Homo sapiens: one gene and its partner. The protein of the gene in region 1 interacts with the protein of each later gene in a pairwise test. Each region holds a gene or a part of one and is shown in the gene's direction. Other genes may lie near its edges.

What was found.
Region 2: the proteins of LAPTM4B (region 1) and EMP1 interact in binary tests that used the Homo sapiens proteins (3 or more experiments, as listed by UniProt).

What each region holds. Positions count from the first base shown.
Region 1 is NC_000008.11:97,850,966-97,853,656, forward strand, and holds the end of LAPTM4B (lysosomal-associated transmembrane protein 4B), read left to right. Parts: intron 1-431; coding exon 432-509; 3' UTR 510-2,048; downstream 2,049-2,691. UniProt on the Homo sapiens protein: Required for optimal lysosomal function. Blocks EGF-stimulated EGFR intraluminal sorting and degradation.
Region 2 is NC_000012.12:13,209,898-13,213,725, forward strand, and holds part of EMP1 (epithelial membrane protein 1), read left to right. Parts: intron 1-1,571; 5' UTR 1,572-1,613; coding exon 1,614-1,691; intron 1,692-3,581; coding exon 3,582-3,678; intron 3,679-3,783; coding exon 3,784-3,828.

The sequences.
Region 1 (2,691 bases):
ACTGACCCAGGCTTTGAATCCAGGCTGATACCAAAAGCTTGGCGTTTTCACTGCACTTTGCAGTTCTCACCATGAGTGGTTACTGTAGTCAATCAAGTGCCTGCCCTATTTGTGTGTGCACATGGACACACTCACCTAGGGGTCTTTTTTCCTCTTCAGAGCCATCACCATTTCTTTTAGAGTCACCGACCTCTGGCCATCCAGCTACACATGGACAGGGTTAGAAAAACTCAAGGCTTGAGAGTCGCTCTCCATTTGCTCCTTTAAGGATTCAAAAAGTCTTTTAATGAAGTGTATCCACTTGCTAGAAAATTGAACTTGGTACAAGTTGTGGAACATGTTTAGTTGCATAAAAGTTCAGTAAAAGCTAAACCTCGGGGAACGTGTGTGCTCTTCAAACATTAACTCTTGCCGTCCCTCTTTCTTCTCAGGTGCTGCTACCCCCGTATGATGATGCCACTGTGAATGGTGCTGCCAAGGAGCCACCGCCACCTTACGTGTCTGCCTAAGCCTTCAAGTGGGCGGAGCTGAGGGCAGCAGCTTGACTTTGCAGACATCTGAGCAATAGTTCTGTTATTTCACTTTTGCCATGAGCCTCTCTGAGCTTGTTTGTTGCTGAAATGCTACTTTTTAAAATTTAGATGTTAGATTGAAAACTGTAGTTTTCAACATATGCTTTGCTGGAACACTGTGATAGATTAACTGTAGAATTCTTCCTGTACGATTGGGGATATAATGGGCTTCACTAACCTTCCCTAGGCATTGAAACTTCCCCCAAATCTGATGGACCTAGAAGTCTGCTTTTGTACCTGCTGGGCCCCAAAGTTGGGCATTTTTCTCTCTGTTCCCTCTCTTTTGAAAATGTAAAATAAAACCAAAAATAGACAACTTTTTCTTCAGCCATTCCAGCATAGAGAACAAAACCTTATGGAAACAGGAATGTCAATTGTGTAATCATTGTTCTAATTAGGTAAATAGAAGTCCTTATGTATGTGTTACAAGAATTTCCCCCACAACATCCTTTATGACTGAAGTTCAATGACAGTTTGTGTTTGGTGGTAAAGGATTTTCTCCATGGCCTGAATTAAGACCATTAGAAAGCACCAGGCCGTGGGAGCAGTGACCATCTGCTGACTGTTCTTGTGGATCTTGTGTCCAGGGACATGGGGTGACATGCCTCGTATGTGTTAGAGGGTGGAATGGATGTGTTTGGCGCTGCATGGGATCTGGTGCCCCTCTTCTCCTGGATTCACATCCCCACCCAGGGCCCGCTTTTACTAAGTGTTCTGCCCTAGATTGGTTCAAGGAGGTCATCCAACTGACTTTATCAAGTGGAATTGGGATATATTTGATATACTTCTGCCTAACAACATGGAAAAGGGTTTTCTTTTCCCTGCAAGCTACATCCTACTGCTTTGAACTTCCAAGTATGTCTAGTCACCTTTTAAAATGTAAACATTTTCAGAAAAATGAGGATTGCCTTCCTTGTATGCGCTTTTTACCTTGACTACCTGAATTGCAAGGGATTTTTATATATTCATATGTTACAAAGTCAGCAACTCTCCTGTTGGTTCATTATTGAATGTGCTGTAAATTAAGTTGTTTGCAATTAAAACAAGGTTTGCCCACATCCAAGATGACCTTGTGATTTTGTGCTGATTGTGTCTGAGGACCTTTCCCTCCACATATGGTCTGGCAGATGCACCCAGTTCAGCCTAAGGAGTAGGCTTTTTTTTGGGGGGGGGAGGTCGGGTGGGGGGGATTTTTAATCTTTTAATTTTCAAGATGGTTAAAATATTGAAATGTTTAAGTGGATAACTATATTATTCATAAAATGACTGAGTGAAAACTAATACACTATGAGATGAAAAGTACTTGTCAGGGATTTTCAAGCTTTTGCTCAAGTAATTACTATGAAATAACAATTTCTAGAAATGAAGAACAATCCGTGGAGAATAAATTACCATTGGTGTGGGGGAAAAAAGCCAAACAGAAGTAGAAAAAGGTGTAGCCGGCATACAAATGTTATCTACAGTGTATTTTTAGATTTTTTATACTTGACCAGGTCTCTTATGTCCTTTTTCTGGAAAACTGTTTTTAACTACTAAAGTGATTATAAATGAAAAAGTGGCCAGTAAAGTGACTACTATCTTCAGGGCTTTAAACCAGTTGGGATAATGTGGTAAGAGAAAAAGTTGAAGGTGTAATGCTACCCGCATACCCATTATTACTGTGACTATGGCTTCACTAAGTCTTTCAGAAATAAGAAGGCAAACCATGAAAAGAAAAGAGGAGCTGTACTGCTAGCTAAATTAAGGTAGTCTGGTTTGGCTGGACTACCTTCTGGTAGAGCAAAACCGCATCTGATCCCACCCAAGAAAGATGGAAACTGGCTCCATAAGCCATCTGAGTAAAAGCTAATATGGGAATATAAGTTTTTGTCATCAGCATGACCAGTGGTGGGGCAACGAAGGGGATTAGTCCTGCCAGAGTTACATATAATGCTGGCTTTGGGCTGTCAGTTAGGTAAGTGATGGTGCTTGGTGGCCTGGCTGGAAGTGCTTGCTTCTGCTTCTTTTTAAAGCTGCAGGGGGATGTATGATAGCACTGTGTCTTGCTCATATGCACTGGAAATGATGAGGAAAGCCAAGGCCTTGGAAATGGGGAAAAGTTCTGGAGAGACATCTTGAG
Region 2 (3,828 bases), on another chromosome or scaffold:
CGTCATAATTTTTGCATTCACAGTTAAGTTGGACACATTCCTAAAAAACAGCCTGGGTTGGAAGGAAGTGGCCAGATTGGGAAGGGGCTGTTGGAGACGGTCAGGGAGAATGGTGGAAGCCATTGTCTGCCTCTCATTCCTTGCTTGCAGAGAGCAAGGCACCCTGATGTATATTAGATCACTCTAGATTTTTGGTTGCCTGATAAAGACAGTGAGAGGAGATAAAAGGCATGTGAAGTGTTGGAATTATAGTATCAGTGCTCTCTAATAAATACCTGATGTGGCATGAAAGTGCCTCAAGCACATTCAAAGCATCAATTAAATTAGGTGGAGTGAGAGAGGGCAGTGGAACAATTGCAGGATGCGCCTGGCCATCTCCTCCCTTGGTTGGGGCATCCACACATCCATTCTGTCTAGGGTGTGAATAACCTCAAGCCCTTTCCTTTTGATGTCCCTCTGAGCCTGCACTGCTTTGTGACAGTCTTAGGCATGACAAAGCTCTCCTTCTGTAGCTGACATAAATCAGAATAGCCTCCCCCATGTGTATCCTTCACACTTCCTTTATTTCCTAGGCTTTATGATCAATGGGCTCCCTTCTCTGCTGTGATTATGGCTGAAAGCTTTTGTTTATCCATGCACATTCTTAATCGATATTAGTTCCCAATCCTCCCACCCTGTGATTTATGCATTTGCCTGTCTTCTGTATTGAGTCCTGAAGGATTGGAATTTGTGTAAATGTCATGTACAAGGAGAAGGCACATTTGGTGCTATCTCAAGTTGCATTACTTTTAAAGCCCCCAGAACCATCACATTGAGCTGTGGAAAATATGACTCTCTGCCCAGACCAATGGCAGGCTTCCTGCCATGAGGCACACAGAGCCCAAAGGCTCAGGTGTAGTAATACTAGTCTGAAATGCTCAGTCACAGGGTGACCAGACCATTAAACTGTAATTAGGTTGTTATAATTATTGAAAACCAAACAGCATTATAATAATAGAATTGTGCCTCTCACATTTTATATCTCGCCCAGGATCATATTAGTAGCCTATTCAGTATATGGGCATTGAGTAATAGCTGCTATTCTTCAGAAGGCATTTACTTCTATTAAAAGTGCTGGGTGAGCAATTTGATGAAAGCATGGACATTTTCCTAGTGGAAAATGGACATTTATATGACATTGTTCAGAGACCTGGAAATTATAAAGGCCTACTTCTTTGAAAATCAAAGTCCTATTTTTAACCTCTAAAACACAAACAAAATAAAATACGAACAGTTATCATAAAATGTTCTTGTTCCTTTTTTGAAATAGAATGTATTAGAGAAATGAATATGTAAATACCCAAGAAGAAACCAAATTCTGTTTCCATGTAGGTATGTATAACTGGATGAATAGGCACTTAGGCAAATCAGAACTAGGTTACAGGGGTGTTTTCAGGAATTTATGATTAGATTGTGATGGTTTTTAGTGCAGCTCTTCCTCATGTTAGCAGATAGCCCACACGTGTGGGAAAGCTGAGTCGTCTTATTGAATCTGACAGTAACCGTTTTTGTCCCTTTCTTTTTCTTTTCAGAACTCTCTTTGCTCACAAGTTACCAAAAAAAAAAGAGCCAACATGTTGGTATTGCTGGCTGGTATCTTTGTGGTCCACATCGCTACTGTTATTATGCTATTTGTTAGCACCATTGCCAATGTGAGTAATGTTCTTTTGTTCATTCATTCATTGAGAAATCATTCGAATATTTACATCAAGTGCACAAAAGAAGTTTAAGCCACAGCCCTTGCCCTTCATGAACTTACAGCTCAGTTGTGGGAAAACAAAATAAACACACGCTTGCCCTTCAAACAATTAAATAACAGGAGGATAAAAGTGAATGTCCACAGGAGTAATCCTGCCAGAGCTGTAGGTGGTTAAGGGCTGGAGGATCTAGTGCAGCTTCTTCGGTCTCTAGAAGAGCCTTCCCAGCAGCAGGGGTGAGTGGAGCTTGAGGTGAACCTGGAGGAGTGGTAGATGGCTGAGGTTTCTCTTAGTGAAAGAGGGAAGGTGGAAGGATCATAGGGATGCATTCAGGTGGGAGTGCTAGCAAAGGAGCATATGTAGGAAGGACAAGCTTTGGTCAGAGGATAAGGAGGACACACACCTATGTGGCTGGAGCCGAACTTCCCCTCCTTCTGAGAAGCTTGATTAGAAGGATAGATGGGAAGAAGAGGATGCCAGACTGACAAATTCAAATTTTGAGCAAAGAGTAGCATGTGAAAGTGGAGTTTTGCAAGATTAACCCAGTGCCACTGAATTAACTAACTCAGACAAAACGAGAAAAAAAAAATGGAGGTAGTGTCTTTTCTCTCTGAACCCTGGGCTACTCTGACCTCTAGTGGTGGCTTACAGCGCCCAATTTGCTTTTACTTGTGCTTTTCTCAGAAAAAAGCCAGCTCCTTGGACCTAAAAACCAAGGCCACCAATCACTAGGCAGGCAAACCATGGTTTCAGAATCTGTTTAGGTCCCTATCACAGTTAAAGTATAAGTGAGTTTTAAAGTTCAGATAGAAGAGCTTTGCAAACATTAGTGGGTGTGATCATAAGCAAGGCTAATTAAGAATAACTGTGATAAGACAACCCCCGCCCACGTGACCTCCTTGTTTTGTAATTTAGCCATTCTATATGTCAACTCCTATATCTATCCAGATAAATCTGATAAGCTTCTTCAAAGTGTATTAATGAGCGCCAAAGCGCTGCGTATCTGTGAATTACCAGCCCCTAATATAAGGCTAGGCACACAGTTGTTTATTGAATGAAGAGCAGGGATTGGCGTAGGTGATGCATGTTCCCGGCCCCACCTTTCCAGTGTGTGCATTTGTGTGTGTGTAGACAGGACACTGCACTTGTTTTCTCTTCCAGAAGGATAATTCCTTTTCTTGGGCCAGGCAGGAAGGGATGGCGGCACCATGATCAGTCTGGGGGAATCCATTCAGGTCACCCTTCAGCTTTTAGTAGCCCCTACAGGAAAGCACTTGCTGTAGTATTTTACTATCAAATTACTTTGCATGTTGTGACAGTCAAGTTTGATCCTTCTGTTTAGATGAAAGTGGCTTATTAACCACTAGATTCATTGTTATTTTCCCAGTAGGTCTTATGTTTCTTAATTGTTTCCAGTTGGACATTTCACTTTTTTCCTGGTTAACCAGGGACTTAAATGAAACAATCTTGTTAGAGTATATGAACTGCACATACCTAAGCCAGTTTCCTCATCCTGGACTTCTGTTTCTCAGAACCTTAGAATTTTAAACCACTGTGGTTGAGTTACTTCCATTTTTGTTAAGTCGTGAAGAATGTGGAGCCCAAAGAGGGCTAGGTGATTTCTTTCTGGGTTTCACATTCTTCTGTGTCTCTTCTCTTGGCAACTTTGTGAACTTCAGTTTTAATCGGACCTTATTTCCGCCCACAGATAAGCTGCATAGCCATAGTTATAGCTAAATAGAATGTCTTTATTAAAATCTGATCCCGATGCAAGCTGATTTGTTATTTTATTTTTAAATCAGAGGGCCAGCTTTCAATTAACATTTTCTTTCCTTCTGGTTTCAGGTCTGGTTGGTTTCCAATACGGTAGATGCATCAGTAGGTCTTTGGAAAAACTGTACCAACATTAGCTGCAGTGACAGCCTGTCATATGCCAGTGAAGGTATATATAAAGATATTGACCCAGTGCTGACAATAGGTGTGGTCAGGGAATGTTCAGCCCCTGGAGTGACCTCATGCCCTTGTTCTCCTCGTCCTGTGTCTACAGATGCCCTCAAGACAGTGCAGGCCTTCATGATTCTCTCTATCATCT